2 separate regions of the Homo sapiens genome follow, and region 1 is linked to region 2. The links come from fine-mapping of genetic effects on gene expression. A gene starts in region 2. The other region holds a variant in brackets. All regions are shown on one strand. Distances are from middle to middle. Region 1 overlaps RNF135 (ring finger protein 135). Region 2 holds the start of ADAP2 (ArfGAP with dual PH domains 2).

Evidence for each region. PIP is the estimated chance that this variant, and not a neighbour inherited with it, causes the effect. A credible set is the group of variants that fine-mapping cannot tell apart.
Region 1: its variant is the best candidate, but not a certain one, in a credible set for the expression of ADAP2 in whole blood (TOPMed, PIP 0.56).

Annotation. Positions count from the first base shown.
Region 1 is chr17:30,982,023-30,994,459 of GRCh38, forward strand. It overlaps RNF135 (ring finger protein 135), which reads left to right. Exons shown (of 5, transcript NM_032322.4): 2 at 2,595-2,738; 3 at 5,922-6,084. Among named protein-coding and RNA genes, the nearest start is that of RNF135, 17 kb to the left of the region's middle. The variant G/C (reference allele first, on the strand shown) is at 6,153.
Region 2 is chr17:30,914,647-30,927,083 of GRCh38, forward strand. It overlaps ADAP2 (ArfGAP with dual PH domains 2), which reads left to right and starts at 7,299. Exons shown (of 11, transcript NM_018404.3): 1 at 7,299-7,462; 2 at 8,294-8,424; 3 at 12,181-12,272. The coding sequence starts at 7,369. RefSeq lists silencers at 7,040-7,479, 7,620-7,669, 7,830-7,989.

The DNA.
Region 1 (12,437 bases), 67 kb after region 2:
GCCCCTTGTTAACCACTATCTGGCTACCACCTATATTGACTCAAGGACCTAGGGCTCTATAATCAGCAGATGGCAAAGCCAGCCAGGCTTGTGTCCTTCCCTTCATGGTGGCACATTCACCCAGGCTCGGGGCCGGTCCAGAGACCCATCTCAGCACTAGGACTTGCCTAGGAGTTGCAGTCCTTGTGGCCTAGACTGCCTTTCAAGTTTATTTAGAGCCCCAGAGCACTTCAGCCCACAGTGGAGAGGCTTGCCAGAACTCAGGTTCCAATAACTGGGGTGGGTGATTTGATTCCTCTCTGGCTAGGACTGATCTAAATGCTCCCTCTGTGGGTAGGCGTCAGCTGAATTCAGCCCAGTTTTGCTTTGTGAAGCGACAAGGCAAAGTCTTTCTATTCTCTTTATCACCATGCTCTCCCTTTCCTGAGTGCACAGATTCTCTGTGCATGTGGCCCCTGACACATGGGATATGGGTTGCATTGGCAATTCAAGACTGTTTCTCCTACCCTCTTCAGTGCCTGTTTCAGTAATATAAAGTTAAAACCAGGTACTGTAAGTACCCCTGATTTTTGGTTCTTATGAAGGTGCTTTTTTGTGTAGTTGTTAAATTTGGTGTTCTTGTGGGAGGGATGATCAATGGAGCCTTCTATTTGGCTATCTTGCTCTGCCCTCTCCACCCTTAAGTCTTCTGGCTTTCCCCCACTTCTCTCTGGCCCTAAACCATTTTTAAGTATACAGTTTGGTGATATGAAATACATTCACAATGTTTTGAAACCATCACTACCATCATTTCCATAACTTTAAAAAATTTTAAATTAACATGACTGGTTCTTCAGGGTACCATAACTCTTTTCAACTCGCAAAAGTGGAATTCTAGGAGGACATTAAAATTCTCCATTTCCTCTTCCCCCAGCCTCTGGCAACCATCATTCTAATTTCTGTCTCTGATTTTGACTACTCTAAATACCTCATATAAGTTGAATCATACAGTATCTGTCTTTTTGTGACTGGCTTATTTCACTTAGCATAATGTCTTCAAGGGTTATTTATGTTGTAGCATGTGTCAGAGTTCCCTTCCTTTTTAAGGCTGAGTAGTATTCTATTGTATGTATATGCCACTTTTTGCTTATTCATTCATTTGTCTGCAGATACTTGGGTTGCTTCCATGTTTTAGCTAGTGGGAATAATACTGCTATGGGCATGAGTTTATGAATCTCTTTGAGATCCTGTTTTCAATTCTTATATATCCGGAAGTGGAATTGCTAAATCATATGGTAATTCTAATTACATATATGTACATATATATATATATATATATATATATATATATATTTTTTTTTTTTTTTTTTGAGATGGAGTCTGGCCCTGTCGCCCAGGCTTGAATGCAGTGGCATGATCTTGGCTCACTGCAACCTCCATCTCCTGGGTTCAAGAGATTTTCTTGCTTCAGCCTCCCAAGTAGCTGGGATTATAGGTGCCTGCAACCACACCTGGTGAATTTTTGTATTTTTAGTAGAGATGGGGTTTCACCAGGTTGGCCAGGATGATCTCGAACTCTTGACCTCAGGTGATCCACCCGCCTCGGCCTCCCAAAGTGCTGGGATTACAGCCATGAGCTATTGCGCCTGGCCTATTTTTAATATTTTGAGCAGCCACCATTCTGTCTTCCATAGTGGCTATATCATTCCCACCAACAGTGCAGAGGGTTCCAATCTTCCCACACCATCAACATTTGTTATTTTGGTTTTTTTTTTTTTGATAGTAGCCAACCTAATGAGTGTGAGGTGGTATCTCACTGTATGTTTTGATTTGCATTTCCCTAGTGATTAGTGATCTTGAGTGTCTATTCATGTGCTTATTGGTGATTTGTATATCTTCTTTGGAGAAATAGCTATTCAAGTTCTTTGCCCATTTCAAAATTCAGTTGTTTGTGGGTTTTTGCTTGTTTGTTTTACCAACCAAACAAGCGGCAGTGATATGTTTTTATTGTTGAGTTTTAGAAATTCTCTGTATATTCTCAGTATTAATGCCTTATCAGATGTATGACTTGCAAATATTTTCTTCCATTTTTGTGGATTGCCTTTTTACTCTATTGTTCGTGTCTTTTGATGCACAAATGTTTAAACATTTCATGTAGTCCAATTTGTCTCCTTTTTTCTTTTGTTGCCTGTGCTTTTAGTGACATATACAATAAATCATTGCCAAATCCAATGTCATAAATTTTGCCCTATGTTTTCTTCTAACAGCTGTATTATTTTAGGTCTTACATTTAGGTCTTTGATCCATTTTGAGTTAGTTTTTGTATATGATGTTAGGTAAGGGTCCAGCCATATTCTTTTGCATATAGATATCCAGTTTTCACAGTACAATTTGTTGAAAAAACTGTCCTTTCTCCATTGAATGGTCTTGGCACCTTCGTCAAAAATCATTTAACTATATATGTGAGAGTTTATTTCTGGGTACTCTATTGTATTCCATCGGTCTGTATGTCTGTTTTTATGCCATTACCACAGTATTTATGATTCCCTCTGTCTAGTGGTGGTTCCTGGGTCCAGTTTTATAGAACCCAGGACCTGAACTTTGCTATTTTGAAGGTGGCAGTAGAGAAGAGCATCACAGAAGTTGCTCAGGAGCTGACAGAGCTGGTGGAACATCTTGTAGACATTGTCAGAAGCCTGCAGAATCAGAGGCCCCTATCAGAATCTGGACCAGACAACGAACTGAGCATCCTGGGCAAGGTAGGCTCCACTGGGAGAGGAAAGGATGTGGAAGGGAATAGGGCTAGGGATTGCTTTCAACTGGAACAACATGAACATATTTGAACCTGAAGGATACAATAAGTCTCAATCTTTTATTGTTCTCTTTACTACCAGACATGGATGATTGGACATTTGGAATGCTTGAGGTAAGGTTGGGAAGCTTCAGATGGGCTAGGATCACTCCACCTAACAAGCTGTCTCTAAGATCACCAGTGACCTCTGTGTATAACGTTCTGGTGCCTGTCTCTATAAGCGTTCTGGTGCCTGTCTTCATTGACCTTTCAGCAGCCTTTGACACTGTGGACCACACCTTCATTCTTAGCTTTTGGGACAGGAATCTTTTGGCTTTCCCCCACCTCTCTCTGGCTGATCCTTCTCAGTCTGTTTACAGGCTCTCTCTCCTCTGCTTAGGAATTAAATGCTGGAGTTCCTCAAGGCTGAGTTGTAGGTCCCTTTGTTTCCCCTGCAGGTAGTCTTCCCTGCATCCATGGCTTTAATGACCACCTCTATGCACAAATAATAGCTCCAGGCTGGAGCCTTCTCTGAGCACTAGGCTGCTATGTCTTCCTTCTCATCTTTTCTTCTTGGGTATCTCAAAGCATCACACTTAATGCGTCCTAAACTGCTCCTCTTCTGGGATTTCTCATCTCAATGCTTGCCCCATTATCTTTCCAAGTACAGAAGCCAGAGACCTGGAAATCATGTTACCTTCTTCTCCCTTACCCTAATATGCAGCATATTGTAGCTTTAAGACCTGCCTAATTACCTCTCAAATCTATTTACTTATTCTTGAGCTCCTTTGAGACTTGCTCTAATCCAAGCCTCTGATAATTTCATGTCTGGATTGCTGTCATAGTCTTCCAAATGCTCCACTCTCCCTCTTCTAGTCTGTTTTCCTCATGGTCATCACAGTGACTACCACAAACATCAATCTGAAAATGTAACTCATCTGCTTAAAACATTCAAATTACATCAGTTTGCTCAGGAGTAAGACCCAAATCCTCACAGGACCAGCAAAGCCCTGTAGGATCCCATCTCTGTCTGCCTCTCAAATCTCATCTCTGCTCATGCTGCCTGGCTCTGTGCGCTCTAGCTACACTGGCCGCACAGTCGCTCTAGTGTGTCTCACGTCTTCCCACTACAGGGCACCCTTCATGGAATGCTCTCCTTTCCCTCCATCACTTAGGTAATACTTGCTCATCCTTCAGATCCTAGCTAGAACGTCATTTCTTCAGAAAGAAGCCTTCAATGATTTCCTTGAACAAATCAAATCTCCCCATTAGAGGCTCTGAGGACTCCATGTACCTTTCATTTGTAGTGGTTATCACCATTGCACCTTTGTAATGTCTTGTGCCATACTCTATATTAATGTCTGCCCCCCTCCCTTTTCCTTCACTGGACTCTCAACTTCAGGAGGATAGGGACTTTTGATGCTTTTTTTTTTTTTGAGACAGAGTCTTGCTGGAGTGCAGTGGCGTGATCTCAGCTCATTGCAACCTCCGCCTCCTAGGTTCAAGTGATTCTCCTGCCTCAGCCTGCCGAGTAGCTGGGACTACAGGTGTCCGCCACCACTCCTGGCTAATTTTTGTATTTTTAGTAGAGACGGGGTTTCACCATACTGGCCAGTCTGGCCTCAAACTCCTGACCTTGTGATCCACCTGCCTCGGCCTCCCAAAGTGCTGGGATTACAGGCGTGCGCCACATTGCCTGGCTGATGCTTTTGTTCTTTTGTCCACCATTGTGTCCCCAGGCGCTAGCACAGTACCCAAGTACCCACTTACAGTAGGGGTTCAACAAATACCCACTGAATGTATGGATAAATCCATCTTTAGGGATGCGATGTGTTGGGATAGAAACGCTGAGAGTCTGACTTTCAGAATTGACATTGTCACTCACTAGTATTATGACCTTGGGCAAGTCATTTCATCTATCTGCGTCTCAGGTTCCTATCTGTAATATAGAAATAATGATACAGGGCCTGCCACATCATTGGTTTATTGTGAGGATTAAAAGAGGTATAAGAAAGTGCTTGAGCAATGTTAAAATGTGGGATGTTATAATTAACTGTGGCAATTTAGTTAACCTTCATGAATTTCATCTTCTTTTGTAAAACGGAGATTTTTTACAGGTTGATAAACCTACTTTGTGAGGTTGTTATGCAAATGAGAGAAAGGCAATATCTAGCATGTAGAAAACACTCAATAAGTGTAATACTACCGTATTTTGATTGGTGGAAAGAATGGGGAGTGGATTATGCAAAGGTGGGAAGGAAAGGGGTTGAAGTTGGTGAGCAGATAAAGGGCTGTATTGGGGAAGAACAGGACCTGAGGCTAAAGAAAATCAGGGAGCATGTGTTGAAGGCCCTAGAAAGCAGGACCTGGATGCAGGCAATTTGAGAGGGAGCTCTTGCGAAGTGAAATGATATAATGATAGAGGTGGGAAAAGGTTCCTTTTTTTTTTTTTGTGAAATGGAGTCTTGCTCTGTCGCCCAGGTTGTAGTGCAGTGGCATGATCTTCTCAGCTCAGTACAACCTCTACCTCCCGGGTTCAAGTGATTGTCCTGCCTCAGCCTCCCATGTAGTTGGGATTACAGGCACTTGCCATCATGCCTGGCTAATTTTTGTATTTTTAGTACAGACAGGGTTTCACCATGTTGGCCAGGCTGGTCTCGGATTCCTGACTTCAGGTGTTCTACCCTCCTCAGCCTTCCAAAGTGCTGGGATTACAGGTGTGAGCCACCACACCTAGCCGAAAAGGTTATTCTGACCTCCATGGTTTATCTCAGTAACTATCTGTAGTATTTATTTTATAAAGCCCCTATAAGATGCGCCTAGAAATGTTAAACTTTTTTGGTATTACCTAAGAAATCCATGTTTATTGTGCAAAATATTAGAAAGCACATAGCATTAAATAAAGCAAATTAAAGTGCTCCATAACTCCATCACCCAGAAATAACCACTCTTTGATATTTTTGCTGTACTATGTACAGCAAATTATTCCAGATTTTTTTCAAGGCATATTTTTTGAGGGCCTAATTTTGTTTTTAAAAACTTGCTGGGAATTAAATAGAAAATTATAGATGAATAGAAAAACTTGAATATAATAGTTGATAGACTGCATAGGGGACTTCCATTTATTCAGTTTTAAATGGTTTATCAATAGGCTTTTTCTTCTGGGGTGGATCTTTCCATGGCTTCTCCAAAGCTGGTGACTTCCGACACAGCTGCAGGGAAAATCAGAGATATTCTCCATGACCTAGAAGAAATTCAGGAAAAATTACAAGAAAGCGTCACCTGGAAAGAGGCTCCTGAAGCACAAATGCAGGGTGAGCTGATCTTATTTATTGGAGGAGGATTAAATATGGAAGTTGGGGGGAGTAGCAGAGTGCTCTAT[G/C]GCTTTGTTCTCTGGGGATAGGATCCCAGAGTCCAGCTGTATTACCACTGTGGTGTCGTGAATCAGGTAGGGGTGGGCTGAAGTGATTTTGTGGCTGAATATGTTTTTGGCAATGACTGAAGGTGTGATGTATCACAAGTCCTTAATAGATAGAAACTCATTTTTGAAGATCCATGCACACAGGTCCTTACTGATCAAGTGTGTTATCTTACTGCAGAGATTCTGAAATAGGCCACTTTTAATTTTTTTTTTTTTTTTTTTTTTTTTTTTTGTGATGGAGTCTCACTCTGTCGCCCAGGCTGGAGTGCAGTGGCACCATCTGGGCTCACTGCAAGCTCTGCCTCCTGGGTTCATGCCATTCTCCTGCCTCAGCCTCCCCAGTAGCTGGGACTACAGGTGCCCGCCACCATGCTGGCTAATTTTTTGTGTTTTTGATAGAGACGGGGTTTCACCATGTTAACGAGGATGGTCTCAATCTCCTGACCTTGTGATCTGCCCGCCTTGGCCTCCCAAAGTGTTGGGATTACAGGCGTGAGCCACCGTGCCTGGCCTTAAATTTTTAACTAGTAAATGTCTTCTTCTTTTTTTTTTTTTTAATAATTTTGTTTTGTTTTTGTTTTATTTTGAGACAGAGTCTCACTCCGTCACCCAGGCTGGAGTGCAGTGGTGCGATCTTGGCCAGAATTACAGGCGTGCGCCACCACGCCTGGCTAATTTTTGCGTTGGTTTTTTTTTTCTTTTCTTTCTTTCTTTTTTTTTTTTTTTTTTTTAAGTAGAGACAGAGTTTCACCATGTTGGACAGACTGGTCTCAAACTCCTGACTGCAAGGCTCACCTCAGCCTCCCAAAGTGTTGGGATTACAGGCGTGAGCCACTGCACCTGGCTGTAAATGTCTTTCTTAACAAAGCATATAGGCCAAGTGCAGTGGCTCACGCCTGTAATCCCAGTGCTTTGGGAGGCTGAGGTGAGAGGATCTCTTGAGGCCAGGAGTTCAAGACCAGCCTGGACTACAGAGAGAGATCCTGTCTCTACAAAAAATAAAAAGTAACCAGATGTGGTGGTGCACACCTGTAGTCCCAGCTACTCTGTAGGCTGAGGCTAGAGGATCACTTGAGCCACGGGTTCAAGGCTGAGTGATCATGCCACTGCATTGCATCCTGGGCAACAGAGGGAGATCTTGTCTACAAACAAAACCAGCATGCCACTTTGTAACTAGTTCTTGATACAGTCTATTAAAATATAATCTCTGGGGAGTGTGTTAATGTTAATATTAAACAGTACCATATAGAAAAGAACCTTTCTGTCCTGATCCTGTAGTTTCTCTGTTGTTCTTCCAGAGTTATTGAAAAATAACTAACACCTTCCTGTCAGACATTAGACGTTAGCTCTGTCTGGTCTCCCAGGGTTCTTCCTCCTGCTCTGGCCACTGCTATCTTCATATGCTTTAGAGGCATTTCTTCTGTAGCTTTTCCTCTTCTGATAGCTTTTATATCCTTTATATTTTCATATTTAAACAATCTTATGCTACTTAAAAAATCATTTCTGGCCAGTGCAGTGGCTTATGCCTGTAATCCCAGCACTTTGGGAGGCCGAGGCGTGTGGATCACCTGAGGTCAAGAGTTCAAGACCAGCCTGGTCAACCTGGCGAAACCCTGTCTCTATTAAAAACACAAAAATTAACTGGGCATGGTGGTGGGTGCCTATAATCCCAGCTACTCAGGAGGCAGAGGCACAAGAATCACTTGAACCTGGGAAGCAGAGGTTGCACCATTGCACTCCAGCCTGGGCAACAAGAGTGAAACTCTGTCTCAAAAAAAAAAAAAAAAAAAAAGAATCATTTCTTATGTAAGTGGAGAAGCATGATTCCTTGGAAAAAGTTTCTTTAGGAAAACAATTAGAGAGCAGTTTATTGTTCCAAAAATTATCTGAGAAAGAAGCACCTTTGTATTCTGTGTGCTTCTAAACTTAGGTTGGGTTCCTTAGTGATTTTATTTATACAAATTTAAGATCAATTTTTAAATTTTGGGGGGTTAAATTTAAAATTTCATATTCAAAAATCAAAACAGGGCTGGGCGCGGTGGCTCATGCCTGTAATCCCAGCACTTTGTGAGGCCAAGGAGGGTGGATCACCTGAGGTCAGGAGTTCGAGAGCAGCCTGGCCAACATGGTGAAACCCCGTCTCTACTAAAAATACAAAAAATTAGCCGGGCGTGGTGGCACACTCCAGTAGTGCCAGCTACTCCAGAGGCTTAGGCAGGAAAATTGCTTGAACCCGGGAGGCAGAGGTTGCAGTGAGCCACTGCACTCCAGTGTGGGTGATGAGCGAAACACCATCTCAAAACAAACAAACAAACAAACAAAAACAGTATAAAAAGGGCATACTGCCCAGTCTCTCTTCCATCCTTGCCAATTGCCCCATTCTCTCTTCTCAGTGCACCACTTTTATTACCGTTTTTTTGAGTGTCTGTTCAGAATTTATTTATGCAAATGTCAGCGAATATGAATTTATATTTTTATTTCTCCCAATCTTTTTTTAATACACAAAAGATAGCACATTATATACATTGTCCTGCATTTTGCTTTTGTCTTTTACTTTATACATCTTTATTTTATAGTACAGTAGTTAGGACATTTTTCCTTGCTTTTGTTAGTACCTAGGGCATTTTCTCTTACAGTTGCTCAGTATTCCAATATCTGGGTATGCCAACATTTATTTACTCCATCCTCTGCAGATGAATACGTGATTGTTTCCAATTGTTTACAATGACAAATAATGCTAAAATCAATAACTGTGTATGTACATTGTTTCATATGGGTGTAGATATATTTGTAGCTCAAATTGCCAGTGAAGGTTGCTGGGTCATAGGGTAAATTCATTTGTCATTTTGATATACATTGCCAAATCACCCTCCAGTTGGGTTATACCAGTCTTCACTCCCACAGAAGAAGTGTGTGTCCCCAACCTGCCAACTGAGTATGTTGTCAAACATTTGTCTTTTTTTTTAAACCAATCTCATGGGTCAAAATATTGATGTGAAATTAGCCAGTCTTGGTGGTGGGTGCCCGTAATCCCAGTTACGTGGGAGGTTGAGGCAGGTGAATTGCTTGAACCCGGGAGGCAGAGGTTGTAGTGAGCCAAGACCGTGCCATTGTCCTCCAGCCTGGGCAACAAGAATGAAACTCTGACTCAAGAAAATACATTGACGTGAGAGTATACTGCGCGTTTTTTTTCTCTTTCTCTTTCTTTTTTTTTTTTTTTGAGACTGAGTCTCGCTCTTGTTGTCCAGGTTGGAGTGCAGTGGCCCGATCTCGGCACACTGCAATCTCCGTCTCCCAGGTTCAAGTGATTCTCCTGCCTCAGCCTCCTGAGTAGTTGGGATTACAGGCACCTGCCACCAGGCCTCACTAATTTTTGTACTTTTAGAGATGGGGTTTCACCATGTTGGTCAGGCTGGTCTCAGACTCCTGACCTCAGGTGATCTGCTTGCCTCGGTCTCCCAAAGTGCTGGGATTACAGGGGTGAGCCACCGTGCCCGGCCTATACTACACTTTTAATTTGTGTTTCTCCATGAATTGTCTTTCATATCTTGTGTTATTGGTCTTTTAAAAATTGACATTTAGGAGCTCTTTGTAAATTAAAGAGATTAAACTTTTGTCTGTTATATGAATTGCAAATTTTGTTCCTTAATATGTCATTTGTCTTTTTATTTATCTTTTATGGGTTTTATAATGCCATATAGACATTTTTAAATTTATGTAATTTTTTTTTTTTTTTGAGAAGCAGTTTCGTTCTTGTTGCCCAGGCTGGAGTACAAAGGTGTGATCTGGCTCACTGTAATATCTGTCTCCTGGGTTCAAGTGATTCTCCTGCCTCAGCCTCCCAAGTAGCTGGGATTACAAGCCTGTGCCACCACACCTGGCTAATTTTTGTATTTTTAGCAGAGACAGGGTTTCCCCATGTTGGTCAGGCTGGTCTCAAACTCTTGACCTCAGGTGATCCACCTGCCTTGGCTTCCCAATCTGCTGGGATTACACAGGAGTAAGCCACTGCGCTCGGCCTTTACATAATTTTTTATAGAGATGAAATCTCACTGTTTTGCCCAGGCTGGTCTCAAACTCTTAGGCTCAAGCAATCCTTCTGTCTCTGCCTGCCAAATTGCTGGGATTACAGGTGTGAACCACCATGTCTGGCCTCAATTTTTTTTTTTTTTTTTAGAGACAATAGACAGAGTCTTGTTCTGTTGCCTAGACTGGTTGACTAGAGTGCTGTGGCAATTCCTGGTCTCTAAATGTTTCTTTTTTATTTTTTGAGACAAGGTCTTACTTTGTTTCCCAGGGTGGAGTGCAGTGGTGCGATCATGGCTCACCCCAGCCTTGACCTCCCAGGCTCAAGTGATCCTCCCTCCTTAGCCTCCTGAGTAGCTGGGACTGCAGGTGCGTGTCACCGCACCTGGCTAATTCTTGTATTTTTGGGTAGAGACAGAGTTTTGCTATGTTTCCTAGGCTGGCCTGGAACTCCTGGGCTCCAGCAATTAGTTCACCTTAGCTGCTTGAGTAGGTGGGACTGCAAGGTGGCGCTACCACACTCAGTTAATTTTTTGTTTATTTTTTTTGTGGAGAAGAGGTCTTGCTTCTATTTTCATGTAGTAAATTTTGTTCATTTTTTCTTTTATGCATTGTAGATTTTAAGTTTTAGTTAGAAAACTCAACCCCCTGAAGTTTAGAAAGGAATTTTCTCAGGTATATGTGTGTGTTTGTACTTACACAGTTTACATTTAAATCTTTGGTTTCATGTTTTACATTTAAATCTTTGACTCACTTCAAGTATATCTCAGCATGTATCCTAGTGCATTTTGTTTTATTTGTTTATTATTATTATTATTATTATTATTATTATTAATTTTGAGACAGAGTCTCACTCTGTTGCCCAGGCTGGAGTGCAGTGGCGCGATCTCGGCTCACCACAACCTCCGCCTCCCGGGTTCAAGCAATTCTCCTGCCTCAGCCTCCTGAGTAGCTGGGATTATAGGCTCCCGACACCACATCTGGATACTTTTTGTATTTTTAGTAGAGATGGGGTTTCGCCATGTTGGCCGGGCTGGTCTTGAACTCCTGACCTCAGGTGATCTGCCTGCCTTTGCCTGCCTTGGCATCCCAAAGTGCTGGGATTACAGGCATGAGCCACAGCACTTGGCCTTATTTATTTTTTAAATAGAGACAGGGATGTCACTTTATTGCCCAGGCTGGTGTTGATCTCCTAGCTTCCAGCAATCCTTGTGCTTTGGCTCCCAAAGTGCTGGGATTACAGGCATGAGCCACCATACCGAGCCCCTAGTGAATTTTAAGTAAGATTTGTGTAGTGCCACTTTAGAGACATATCTCATAGCATTTTCATGTTTAATGATATTGCTCTGCTTAAAATGTTGCTCTTAACTGGAGAACCATGATTCTTTGGAAAAAATTTCCATGGTTAAGTGTAGATTATTTCTCTCATCAATAGAGATAAAAAAAGTATTAGGGAGTGTTAATTTAAAAAAAAAAAGTAAATAACTTCAGTAGGTTTTGCAAATGCTTTTTAAAAAATTTTTTTCCTTTCTTTTTCTTTTGTTTATAATCTGCATTCTGCTGAATTAATTAATTAATTAATTTTTTTATTTTGACACAGGTTCTCTGTTGCCCAGGCTGGAGTGCAGTGGCACAATCACTGCAGCCTCGATCTCTCAGGCTCAGGTGATCTTCCTTCCTAAGACTCCCAAGTAGCTGGGACTACAGGCATGTGCCACCACACTCAGCTAATTTTTTGTACTTTTTGTAGAGATGAGGTTTTGCCATGTTGCCCAGGCTGGTCTCCCACTCTTGGGCTCAAGCGATCCTCCTGCCTCAACCTCCCAAAGTTGTTGGATTACAGGCGTGAGCCACGGTGCCCAGCCAAACATTTTTTAAAAACCTATTAACAATAAGTAATAATCGTATCAGCAAAATAGGAGAACAGTGATATTCATCTGAATTTTGTGTTTTTCTAAATTGTAGTGAAAATACATACAACATAAAATTTACTATCTTAACTATTTTTAAGTAGGCAGCTCAGGCAGGTGCAGTGGCTCATGCCTGTAATCCCAGCACTTTGGGAGGTTGAGGTGGGCAGATCAGTTGAGTCCAGGAGTTCAAGAGCAGCCTGGGTAACATAGTGAGACCCACTTCTCTACCAAAAATACAAAAACTAGCCTGCTATGGTGGCACACACCTGTAGTCCCAGTCCCAGCTACTTGGGAGGCTGAGGTGGGA
Region 2 (12,437 bases):
TCAGCCACCCGAGTAGCTGGGATTACAGGCGTGCGCTACCATGCCTTGCTAATTTTTGTGTTTTTAGTAGAGACGGGGTTTCACCACATTGGCCAGGCTGGTCTCAAACTCCTGAGCTCAAGCAATCTGCCTGCCTCGGCCTCCCAAAGTGTTGGGATTACAGGCGTGAGCCACCACGCCCAGCCCTGGTTCCAGAACATTTTTAACACCCTAAAAGGAAACCTTACCCATTAAGCTGTCTCTTCCCAGTCCCTCTGCCCCCAAGCCCACTCCCTCCAGCTCCTGGCAACCGCTAATCTGCTTTCTGTCTCTATGGATTTGTCTGTTCTGGACATTTCATAAAACTGGATCAACCAAAATTTTTCAGGCCCAGCATTTGCTAGGCACCAAGGATACAAAGATCAATATGACAATCTGCTCTTAACCAAATCACGCTGACTGGGACAAAACAAGTTAAAAAAAAACAACCATAGTCCAACGTGATGACTATTGTAATGGAAATATGAACATTTTGGGAACATAGTTCAGGGGGATGAGGGTGAGCTGGAAGAAGTCAGATTTCTTTGAGGAGTCTCGCTTTGTCTCCCGGACTGGAGTGCAGTGAAGTAATCTCAGCCCACTGCAACATCCACCTCCCATGTTCAAGCGATTCTCATGCCTCAACCTCCCAAGTAGCTGGGACTACAGACACATGCCACCATGCCCAGCTAATTTTTCTATTCTTGGTAGAGACAGGGTCTTGCAATGTTGGCCAGGCTGGTCTCGAATTTCTGACCTCAGGTGATCAGCCCACTTCGGCCTCCCAAAGTGTTGGGATTACAGGCGTGAGCCACTGCACCTGGTCAAAAGTAAGACTTGAATTTAGGCATGGAGGCAGGAGTTTGCTCCACCAACCAATGGAGGCTGGGCTGGATGATGTTGTAGAGGAGAGAGCTGGGGTAGGAGAAGGGGCAGCATGAGCGAGATACAATGGCATGGAGTTGGATAGCTCTGTGTTCAAAGGATGTGGACAGATCACACACCAAGCACATCCCAGGGCCTTTGCCCAGGTTGTTCTCTTCCCCTAGGACACTCCTCTCTCAAATTGCTGCTGGTTGGCTTGACCCCTTCCTGCAGATCTTAAATGTTAGATCTGAGCTTAAATGTTACCTGCTCAGAGAGGACTTCCTTGACCTCTCTATTGAAATAGCAACTTTCATTCCTCTCTATCCCCTCACTTGTTTCTTTTTCTTTATAGCACGTATCACTCTTGCACTATATTGTATATTTGTTTCTCTGTTCATTTCCTGTCTCCCTAACTTGAAGGTAAGCTCCACAAAGGCAGCTATTTCCCCAGCTATGTGGCCATATCTCAGTACCCATAACAGTATCTGGCACATAGTAGGTGCCCCATAAATAATGAACGAATGAGCAAACCCTGAGGCAGTACTGCAGTGGGGAGTCCCTTTGAGATCTGAGTGGTTCCAGTTGCTGAAGACAAGGTGATATTAAACACACAAATATGTTGGTCAACTCAATCACATTATTTACTCTGCATGGCTCCTTATCAGCTGTTTCACTTGCCTTCAAAAGGAATTATTTGTTTCCTTCAAAAAGGAAAACACTTTGTGATCCCAAGTCCTCTCACTTTATTGATTATTATTTTTTACCGATCCTCATTTCTTTGTTTATTTAGCAAACATTTGTTGAAACCCTGCTATGTGGCATGCAGGTGCTAGGGATACAACAGAGAACACAACTGACCCTGTCCTCATGAAGCATAGAAGTGTGACAGACCAGTAAACCAGCAAGCAATTACAGTAGAGTAGTAGAATATAATGCTTGAAAATACAGTTTTTTGTTTTAGTCTGTTTTGTTTTTTGAGACAAAGTCTCACTCTGTTGCCCAGGCTGGAGTGCAGTGGTGTGATCTCGGCTCACTGCAACCTCTGTCTCCTGGGTTCAAGCGATTCTCCTGCCTCAGCCTCCCGAGTAGCTGGGATTACAGGCACACGCCACCATGCCCAGCTAATTTTCTTTGTATTTTTTTTTTTTTTAGTGGAGACCAGGGTTCGCCATGTTGGCCAGGCTGATCTCAAACTCCTGGCCTCAGGTGATCTGCCTGCCTCAAACTTATGCCTGTAATCCCAGCACTTTGGGAGGCTGAGGCAGGCAGACCACTTGAGGCCAGGAATTCGAGACCAGCCTGACCAACATGGTAAAACCTCATCTCTACTAAAAATACAAAAATTAGCTGGGCGTGGTGGCACATGCCTATAATCCCAGCTACTTGGGAGGCTGAGGAACAAGAATTGCTTGAACCTAGGAGGCAGAGGCTGCGGTGAACCAAGATCGTACCACTGCACTCCAGCCTGCGAGACGGACAGAGGCTGTCTCAAAAAAAAAAAAAAGAAGCATAATGTTAGGTTGAACTTTATGGCATTGCTATTGCCATTTTTGTAAGTCAGTTTCATGTGGTTCAACCTAATATATTGGTGAAAAGAGTCCAAGGCAGACTTGAATTCAAATCCCAGCTTCAGTATGCATGATTCAGTATACAACATCTCAGTTGTGTAACCTTGGACAAATGTACTTACCCTCTCTCTGAGCCACAGTAGTCTCATCTGTAAAATGGGCATAAACATAGTCTGTACCTCAGGGTTATGGCTAAGATTAAATGGAATAATGCATGTAAGGGGTCTGGTGCACTGCAATCCCAGAATAAATGGTGGCCATAATTGTGGGTGGTGGTTTTTTCTTTAGTTACTGTATTTTTCAAATTTCCTGTAATATAGCTTTTTTTAATTCTAAAGCTAATAAACATAATTATTTAATTTTTTTGTTTGTTTTTGTTTTTTGAGATGGAGTCTCATCCTGTCACCTAGGCTGGAGTGCAGTGGCACAATCTTGGTTCACTGCCACCTCCAGCTCCTGGGTTCAAGCAATTCTCCTGCCTCAGCCTCCCGAGTAGCTGGGATTACAGGCACCCACCACCACGCCTAGCTGATATTTGTATTTTTAGTAGAGACGGGGTTTCACCATGTTGGCCATGCTGGTATTGAACTCCTAACCTCAGGTGATCTGCCCGCCTCGGCTTCCCAAAGTGCTGGGATTACAGGTGTGAACCACTGTGCCCAGCCAATTATTTAATTTTCAAAGGAATTGTGTTCTATGCCCTGAAGATCTTGAGTGGGGACCTTGAGGCTGTTACTGGGAATGTGGTTGAGGGCTTTCTTCCAGCCCTGCTGCAGCTTGGCTTGGCTGGACAAACACAGTGACCTGAGAACAGGGCTAGATGTTTCTTCTTGGTGGGACCCTGGGAGCTTTATTTACAAAGGACATTCTGTCCCACAGCCCAAATTGCTCCCTCACTCCAGCATCTGCTGTATTGACTGAGCCCTTTAGAGAGGCTGCTTTGACCCATCCTGTCCCTCAAACTCTGGGTCACAGTGCTCAGTGTCCACCTTGGTCATGACAGCCTTTGGCATGGTCCTCTTCACTTAGAAGTAGCTTCTGGGTCCTGAGCACAGAAGCTGAGCTCAATTTTCATAATGTCCAGTATCCAGGAGTGGGCTACAGAGTTTTGTTTTATTTTTGAGACAGAGTCTTGCTTTGTTGCCCAGGCTGGAGGGCAGTGGCGTGATTGTGGCTCACTGCAACCGCTGCCTGCTGGACCCAAGCGATCGTTCCACCTCAGCCTACTGAGTAGCTGGGACTACAGGCATGTGCCACCATAGCCAGCTAATTTTGGTAATTTTTGTAGAGACAGGGTTTCACCGTGTTGCCCAGACCGGGGCTACAGTTTCTGTTTAGGTTGATGCAAAAGTTTTGGAAATAAATAGTGGAGGAAATATAGGGTACAGACTTTCAATTATAAGAAGAATTCTGGGGATCTAAGGTGCAGTATGGATGGGGATGGATGTGTTCATTAATGCGATTGTGGGAATCATTACACAATGTGCACATATGTCAAATCATGTACACATTGAATATATACAATCTTTCTTTGTCAATTAAATATTTGTTAAAATAGTGGGGATAATTGCACAACATTGTGAATATAATTGAATGCAATCGATGACATAGTATTGTACACTTAGAAATGATTAAGATGGGTGGGGCATGGTGGCTCATGCCTGTAATCACAAAGCTTTGGGAGACTGAGGCTGGAGGATTGTTTGAAGCCAGAAGTTGGAGTCCAGCTTGGGCAACAAAGCAAGCCTCTGTCTCTGTGAAAATAGAAAAATAAAAAAATTAGCCAGGTTTGGTAGTACGTTCCCATAGTCCCAGCTACTCAGGAGGCTGAAGCAGGAGGATCACTTGAGCCCAGGCATTCAAGGCTGCAGTGAGCTCTGATTGTACCACTGCACTCAAGCCTGAGTGACAAAGTGACCCCCTTGTCTCTAAAGAAAAAAATGGTTAAAATGGCAAATTTTGTGTTTAGATTTTATCACAATTTTTTAATTTATATATATTTTTCTTTTTTTTTTTTTTTTTTGTTTTTTTTTTGGAGCAACCTTATTAACCGAACCACAATTTAAGTAAAAAAAGAAAAAAAAAAGTCCAGAATGCACTAAAGGGAGGTTTCATGAAATCACCTGGGACTGACTGAGCCACAGTAGGAGATCTGGATTTAGGCCCTGTTCCGCTTCTTATTTGGCTCCATGACCTTGGGTAACTTAAATCCTCTGAGGCTCAGCTTTCTCTTCTGTAAAGTGGCCTGATGTGATGCTGCCCTCTGAGGGTGTCATGAAGCTAAAATATGATCAAATGTGTGACGCTCTTGTAAAAAAAACACTCAGTAATTGTTCATTAGCATTGTCCTACAACCACCACCACCAAAAAAAAAAAAAAAAAAAAAAAAAGAAAGAAACAAAGAAAAGAAAAAAGAAGGGAAAAGAAAAGAAAGCATTATAAACAAAATACCAGAGTACATTGTTTTGCTCTGAGGATGCCTGAAATGCCACATTAAGGCTGTTTGATGGGAACCTCCAGAAATAAGGAAGGGAAGAGGGGAAACTAAAGGAATCTCTCAATCTCTGGCTCCTCACTATGAATGAGATACTGTATGTTCTCTTGGATTGGCTATTTTTTTTCTTTTTCTTTTTCTTTTTTTTTTTAATTTTTTTTTTTTTTTTTTGAGACAGAGTCTCACTCTGTCGCCCAGGCTGGAGTGCAGTGGTGCGATCTCGGCTTACTGCAAACTCCGCCTCCTGGGTTCATGCCATTCTCCTGCCTCAGCCTCCCAAGTAACTGGGACTACAGGCGCCCACCACCACACCCAGCCATTTTTTTGTATTTTTAGTAGAGACGGGGTTTCACCGTGTTATCCAGGATGGTCTCGATCTCCTGACCTCGTGATCCGCCCCCCTCGGCCTCCCAAAGTGCTGGGATTACAGGCGTGAGCCACTGCGCCCGGCTTTTTTTAAAGTTTCTGAGATTCAACCAGAGCCTACTTAGAACTGGGTTGGCTTTTGTGGGACCTACAGGGAGGTGGCAGTGAGACCTAAGGTGTCAGAGAAGCAAAGGAGCACAGACTGGTGAAGGCTCGGGTGCCGAGGAAGCACCCCCAGCATCACAATTTTGTCCCAGTGTTGGGCAGAGGAGAAATGTCCTTAGCTTGTCTCCTCTTCTCCCTCTCTCCCTCTTTCCTTTGCCTTCATACCTTAAGTTGACTTTCCCATCTTTCTCCTGGGAGATTTATTTCTGTCCCTTTTTTCATCTAAAGCAACGGAAATGAATCATCTTTCAGCCGGTTTAATAAACAGCCCCATGCCCCCTGACCCCAGCTGACTCTCTCACTGGTTCCTCTGTGGCTGCTCCTGGGCTAGGCCTCACCCCCTCACAGGCAAGACCCCCTCATGGCTGGCTATTCTTGGTAATACTCTCCACCCTCCCTTCCTGCTCAGTCCTGGCAGCTTGACCTCCTCCACCCCAGGGATGACGGGAATCACACACAGCATTCCAAGCGACAATTCCACAAGCTGACCATAGGGGCAGGGGAAGCAAGGAGGCCACCATGTTTGGAGGGTTTCTTTGTGCCATTTCAATGACCCTATTAGTGGATCTTACGCTCTCCATTTAACAGTTGAGGGTTTGGAGGCTCAGAGAAGTGAAGGAACTTGCCCAGAGACAAACAGTTGGGAAATGTGGAAATGAAGGAGTCAACATTTAAAGCCTGAATTTCTGGATTCCTGAATTCATTCCATTACACCATATTGCTGTGCGTGTGTGTGCACGTGTGTGCTTGCGCCCGCATGTATGTTGAATGGGAGTGTGGGCAGGTCAGCTAGAACATCAGCTGCAATTCACCAGGATGGAAACCTGATTTTATCCTGAAGGTTAACACCTGTCTATCATATGCATATGGCTTAATGCATCTGTGTGCATTAAGGTATTAACCTACATAGAAGATGGCAAGTATGTACAGTATATATTTCACCAGGAGGCCCATGAGTCATTGCAGATGATGTCAAGGAGTAACGAAGATGATGTCAAGCAGTAACAAAGATGGGAGAGAGGGAAAGAGGAAATGAAATGCCCACATTTAAGACCACCTATACCCTGCCTTCACCTCGCGGTGATGGAACTTCACAGGTTAAAGTGCCTGGCTGTGTCCACCTTGGTGAAACCACACTTTTCTGGTGAACAAAATCATGCAACTATTAGTTGGACTTCTAAAAATGTGCAGGTATCATTTATAGGAGCAATATGGAATACAGACATAAAACTGCTGACGTCAAACTCCCTGGTGTGGACATGTGTATGTGTCTGCGGTCAGAGAGTGGAATTAACACAAGTATATAAATAACCGTGATGCAAGGTAGATAGAAAGTGCTCAGGTCCAAAACAAATAGACAGATACTACAAGAGTATTCTTGGAGACCCAGAGGCTGGAAAGATTACTCCAGGCAGGGTATCACAGAGGGCTTCCTGAGGAGGTGGCATTTGCATATAAATACGTCTCCAAATAGATGTAAGATCTTACATTAACAGAACGCTTTAACAGAAGTTAGATTCTGGTTAATTTTCCAAGAAGCGCTGAGATGCAGACATATGCCCTTGTTCCTCTTTCATAGACGCGGAAACTGAGACCCACAGAGGTTGAATAGGTTGTCCACAGTCTCGTAGCTACCAAGTGACAGGCCACGATTTGATCTCAGGCCAGTGTGTTAAACTCCAATTTGCGTGCTCCTGTCCCTCCCCGCGCGTCGGCGGAGCTCGGGGCCGGACTGGACCTGCCGAGGGAGGGGCGGACAGTCCTGACGGTGCGGGGCGGGGCTGGCGGCTGCCCAGGCCTGGCTGAGGCGCCGCGGCCGGGTCCCTCTCCACCTGCCGGGCGGAGCGCACGGGCCATGGGCTGAGCCCCGCTGAGCCCGCCGGGCCGGCCATGGGCGATCGCGAGCGCAACAAGAAGCGGCTGCTGGAGCTGCTGCGGGCGCCGGACACAGGCAACGCGCACTGCGCCGACTGCGGGGCGGCAGGTAAGGGCGCGGCGGCGCGGGCAGCGCGAGACCCCCGGCCGGACCCCAGGCCCACCCGACTCCTCCCCTCGGCCCCACCGGGTCCCGCCCTCGGCCCCCTGGACCCAGACGTGGCACCTGCGGGCCCCGACCCCTCCCACCCACACCGTGAACCTCTCACCCGAGCCCCGAGGGCCGTCTCCACCACACCCTGCCCCGGCCCCTACGAGCCCAGGCTCTGCTCCCCTCGCGGGACCAGATGCGCATCTTCCCACGTGCTTGGACCCGGACACGAGAGCCGGCAGCCTAGAGCCCTTCCAGTCCCGCTCTCTTCCCTGGCCAGGCACCCGACCGCCCGAGTCCGGGCTCTCGATGTCTGCGCACCCAGGCGCGCCCCACGCCCTCGGACTCAGACATCCCAGCCAGGGCTAAACGTCGGGCCCAGGCCGCCGACAGTCCTGTGCCCCCTGCCCGCTCCCAGACGCCCCCCGAAGGCCTCCCCAGCGCCCCACCTCGGGGACGCCGAGGGCCCCCTAACTCAGCCTCCCCACCTGCAGCTCCGCGCCGAGCCCCGCGGTGCGCCCCCCGCGCCCTCCTCTCGGTTCCTTCTGAGTCCCTTCACTTCCACGTCGCGCAGCCTCAGACTCTCTCCCCGGGCCCTGAACTGCCTCCAGGATCTTCACCCCGGTCGCCGCGCAGCGGCCGGTGGGCTAACCAGAAGGTGCCAGGCTGGCCGCTTAGTTCGCCTTAGGTGGGAGAAGGGGCGCCCCACCTGCCCCAGTGCCCCGAGCCCAGCCCTGGTTTCTTCACCGCGCTTTCCGCTCAGCTCCTCTCCTGCCTCATCCCCTGCAGATCCCGACTGGGCCTCTTACAAGCTGGGGATCTTCATCTGTCTCAACTGCTGCGGCGTCCACCGTAACTTCCCTGACATCAGCAGAGTTAAATCTGTGCGACTTGACTTCTGGGACGACAGTATTGTGGAGGTAGAAAGGCATGCCCGTGGAGAGCCATGGAACTGCGGGACTGGAGTAGAGGCAGCGGGCAGGGGGCTCCCATTCTACAGAGGGGGAAACTGAGAACCAGAGAGGGGCAAGTCTAGCTAGAGGAAACACAGCTTATAAGATGGCAGCTTAGACAGAGGCCGAGAGTTCAAATTCTGGCTCTATCATTTGCTTACTTTTTTTTTTTTTTTTTTGAGACGGAGTCTCGCTGTGTTGTCCAGGCTGGAGTGCAGTGGAGCAATCTTGGCTCACTGCAACCGCTGCCTCCCGGGTTCAAGTAATTCTCCTGCCTCAGCTTCTCAAGCAGCTGGGATTACAGGCGCCTGCCACCACACCCGGCTAATTTTTTTGTACTTAGTAGAGACGGGGTTTCACCATGTTGGTCACGCTGGTCTCGAACTCCTGACCTCAGGCGATCCACCACCTCAGCCTCCCAAAGTGCTGGGATTACAGGCCTGAACCATCCTGAACCGCTCCTGGCCATCATTTGCTTACCTATAAGCTGGGAGGCCCTGAGCTAGGTACTTTGACCTAGCTGTGGACCCTCAGTTTCCACATCTGTATTCAAGGGATACCACCACCATTTCTCTTTTTTTCTTTCTTCCTTTTTTTTTTTTTTTTTTTTTTTTGAGACGGAGTTTCACTCTTGTCGCCCAGGCTGGAGTGCAACGGCCAATCTCGGCTCACTGCAACCTCTGCCTCTTGGGTTCAAGCAATTCTCCTGCCTCAGCCTCCTGAGTAGCTGGGATTACAGGCACCCACCACCATGCCCCGCTAATTTTTGTATTAATTTTTAGCAGAGACGGGGTTTTGCCATGTTGGTCAGTCTGGTCTCGAACTCCTGACCTTGGGTAATCCACCCTCCTCGGCCTCCCAAAGTGCTGGGATTACAGGCGTGGGCCACTGTGCCTGGCCACTACCACCAATGTCACAGCACTGTTGTGAAGATGATTGTAGGCTCAGTCCAGACACAAAGAAAGCTGTCAGTTAACAGTTGCTGTTGTACGGGTGTGGTGGCTCACACCTATAATCCCAGCACTTTGGGGGGCTGAGGCTGGTGGATTGCTTGAGCCCAGAAGTTCAAGAGCAGCCTGGGCAACATGGTGAAACCCCGTCTTTACAAAAAATACAAAAATTAGCTGGGTGTGATGGCATGCGCCTGTCGTCCCAGATACTTCGGGGGCTGGGGTGGGAAGATCACCTGAGCCTGTGAGAGTGTGGCTGCAATGAGCTGAGATCGCACCACTGCACTCCAGCCAGGGTGAGAGTGAGACCCTACCTCAAAAAAAAAAAAAAAGTTGCTGTTATCATTAGTGAAGTCTTGGACTGGGGGAAGGGAAATAACCTGATTTGTGGTCTAAAGTCCTCCTTTCCCCCTAGGCAGAAAGAGGACCACTTTGCTCTCCTGCCCTCTGGGGGTGGAGGATACCCTCAGCCTGCATGGTAATTCCATTTTGGTCAGAAAACCTCCAGAGAGCAGGCAGTTCTGCACTGTGCGGGTTGGCTGAGGGTTTCCAGGACTATTGGGGAAGCAGGCTGACATTTACTGAATGCCTACTCTGTGCCAGGTACTGTGCTAGACAGCACCGGACTGGAGGCTTTAGTGTGACCTTACTAAGTGCTGGGTCTTGGGAGAGAACAATGAACAAGATAAGGTCCCTGGCCATACAGAGCTTACATTCTAGTGTGGGAGAAAGGCTGGAAACCAGTAAACCAGCACATAAACCTGAAGGATTTTATTTGCACCTTATAACTCCCATGTTATATTTTCTTTTTTGTTTTTTTTGTTTTTTTTTTTTTTGAGACGGAGTTTCACTCTTGTTGCCCAGGCTGGAGTGCAATGATGCGATCTTGGCTCACTGCAACCTCTGCCTCTGGGGTTCAAGCGATTCTTGTGCCTCAGCCTTCTGAGTAACTAGGATTACAGGCATGCACCACCATGCTCGGCTAATTTTGTATTTTTAGTAGAATTTTTACTAGAGACAGGGTTTCACCCTGTTGGTCAGGCTGGTCTCAAACTCCTGACCTTAGGTGATCCACCCGCCTCGGCCTCCCAAAGTGCTGGGATTACAGGCGTGAGCCACCGTGCCCAGCATTTTTTTTTTTTTTTTTTTTGAGATGCAGTCTCACTCTGTCACCCAGCCTGGAGTGCAGTGAGTGGCACGATCTCGGCTCACTGCAACCTCCACCTCCTGGATTCAAGCGATTCTCCTGCCTCAGTCTCCTGAGTAGCTGGGATTACAGGCGCCCGCCACCATGCCCGGCTAATTTTTTGTATTTTTAGTAGAGATGGGGTTTCGCCATGTTGGCCAGGCTGGTCTTGAACACCTGACCTGAGGTGATCCACCTGCCTTAGCCTCCCAAAGTGCTGGGATTACAGGTGTGAGCTACAGCGCCCAATCCTCTGTTATATTTCCTTCTTCTTCTTCCTCCTCCTCCTCTTCTTCTTCTTCCTTCTTCCTTCTTCTTCTTCTTCTTCTCTTTTCTTTTCTTTTCTTTTCTTTCTTTCTTTTTTTTTTTTGAGACGGAGTCTCACTCACTCTGTTGCCCAGGTTGGAGTGTAGTGGTGTGATCTTGGCTCACTGCAACCTCCTCCTCCTGGGTTCAAGCAATTCTTGTGCCTCAGCCTCCTGAGTAGCTAGGATTACAGGCGTGCACCACCATACCTGGCTAATTTATTTATTTATTTGAGAGAGAGTCTTGCTCTATTGCCTAGGCTTGAGGGCAGTGGCAAAATCTCGGCTCACTGCAACCTCTGCCTCCCGGGTTCAAGCAATTATCCTGCCTCACCTTTCTGTGTCCTGGCTAATTTTTGTATTTTTTTAGTAGAGACAAGGTTTCACCATGTTGGTCAGGCTGGTCTCAAACTGCTGACCTCAAGTGATCCCCAGCCTTGGCCTCCCACAGTGCTGGGATTACAGGTGTGAGCCACTGTGCCTGGCCATTTTCTTCATTTTTACGGGTGAGATTCCAAGGGTCACTCATCAAATAAATGGCAGTCAGGATCTGAATCCTGCTCTGTTGGGATCCAAAGCTGGCGACACAGCCTAGCGGCCCCTGCAGAGGAGAAGAGGAGCAATGCTCCTCTCCTGCAAAGGAGATGCCCAAGCGATGTGAATTGAAAACCTGGTGTTTCTTCCCACTTCTGCCCTCACCCTAGCTATGCCACTGCTGCCAGGGCCACTTTTGGTGCATCAGCCTCTGGGTCTCTTGGGTGCCAAAGGGCCCTACTAATCATCCTGACCTATGCACTCCATGAGGCGAGCACCCACTTCTTCCATCCTCCAGGTACATTTATCTCCTGCAGACTTTCAGGGCTGCTAGGGGTCCTGGCCATCTGTGGAAGGCATGATAGGAAGAATATGAGCTTTGGAGTCAGGTCTGGGTTCAAATCCCAGTTCTCCACTTATAGCTGTGTTTCCTTGAACAAGTAACCTAACCCGTCTGAGCCTCAGTTGACTCATCTGTAAAATGAGTACAGTGATATGAAAATGGCTGAGAGGACCCAGTGAGCTGATGTGTGAGCACTGTGGAGTCCTGTGCCCATATGAGGCATGGTTATATCTGCCCATGATTGTTACAGGCTGGGGCTTCCCAGCAGTATGGATGACCAAGCCCGGTGGGACATCTCCTTCTTGGAGGCAGTTTCTTCTGACTCAGCCTAAGTCAGTGGCCTCATAGTTTCATTTCACGTTTTTTCAAGTTCTAATATTACCTCAGGTTGCTGTTGTCTTGCAGTTTATGATCCACAATGGAAACCTCCGTGTGAAGGCCAAGTTCGAAGCCAGAGTCCCAGCTTTCTACTACATCCCCCAGGCCAACGACTGCCTGTGAGTGGGTGATTCCTTAGGGACTGGGTGAGGGGTCTGTCCTGGTTCCACCTCCTCCCCCTCTCCATCTTTGGTGTCTTCATCTGTGGTGGTCTCTTCTATGGGCCTGGTGCGCAGGTGGATCCAGGAAAGCACTGGATACCATCACAGAGAGCACATGGGAAG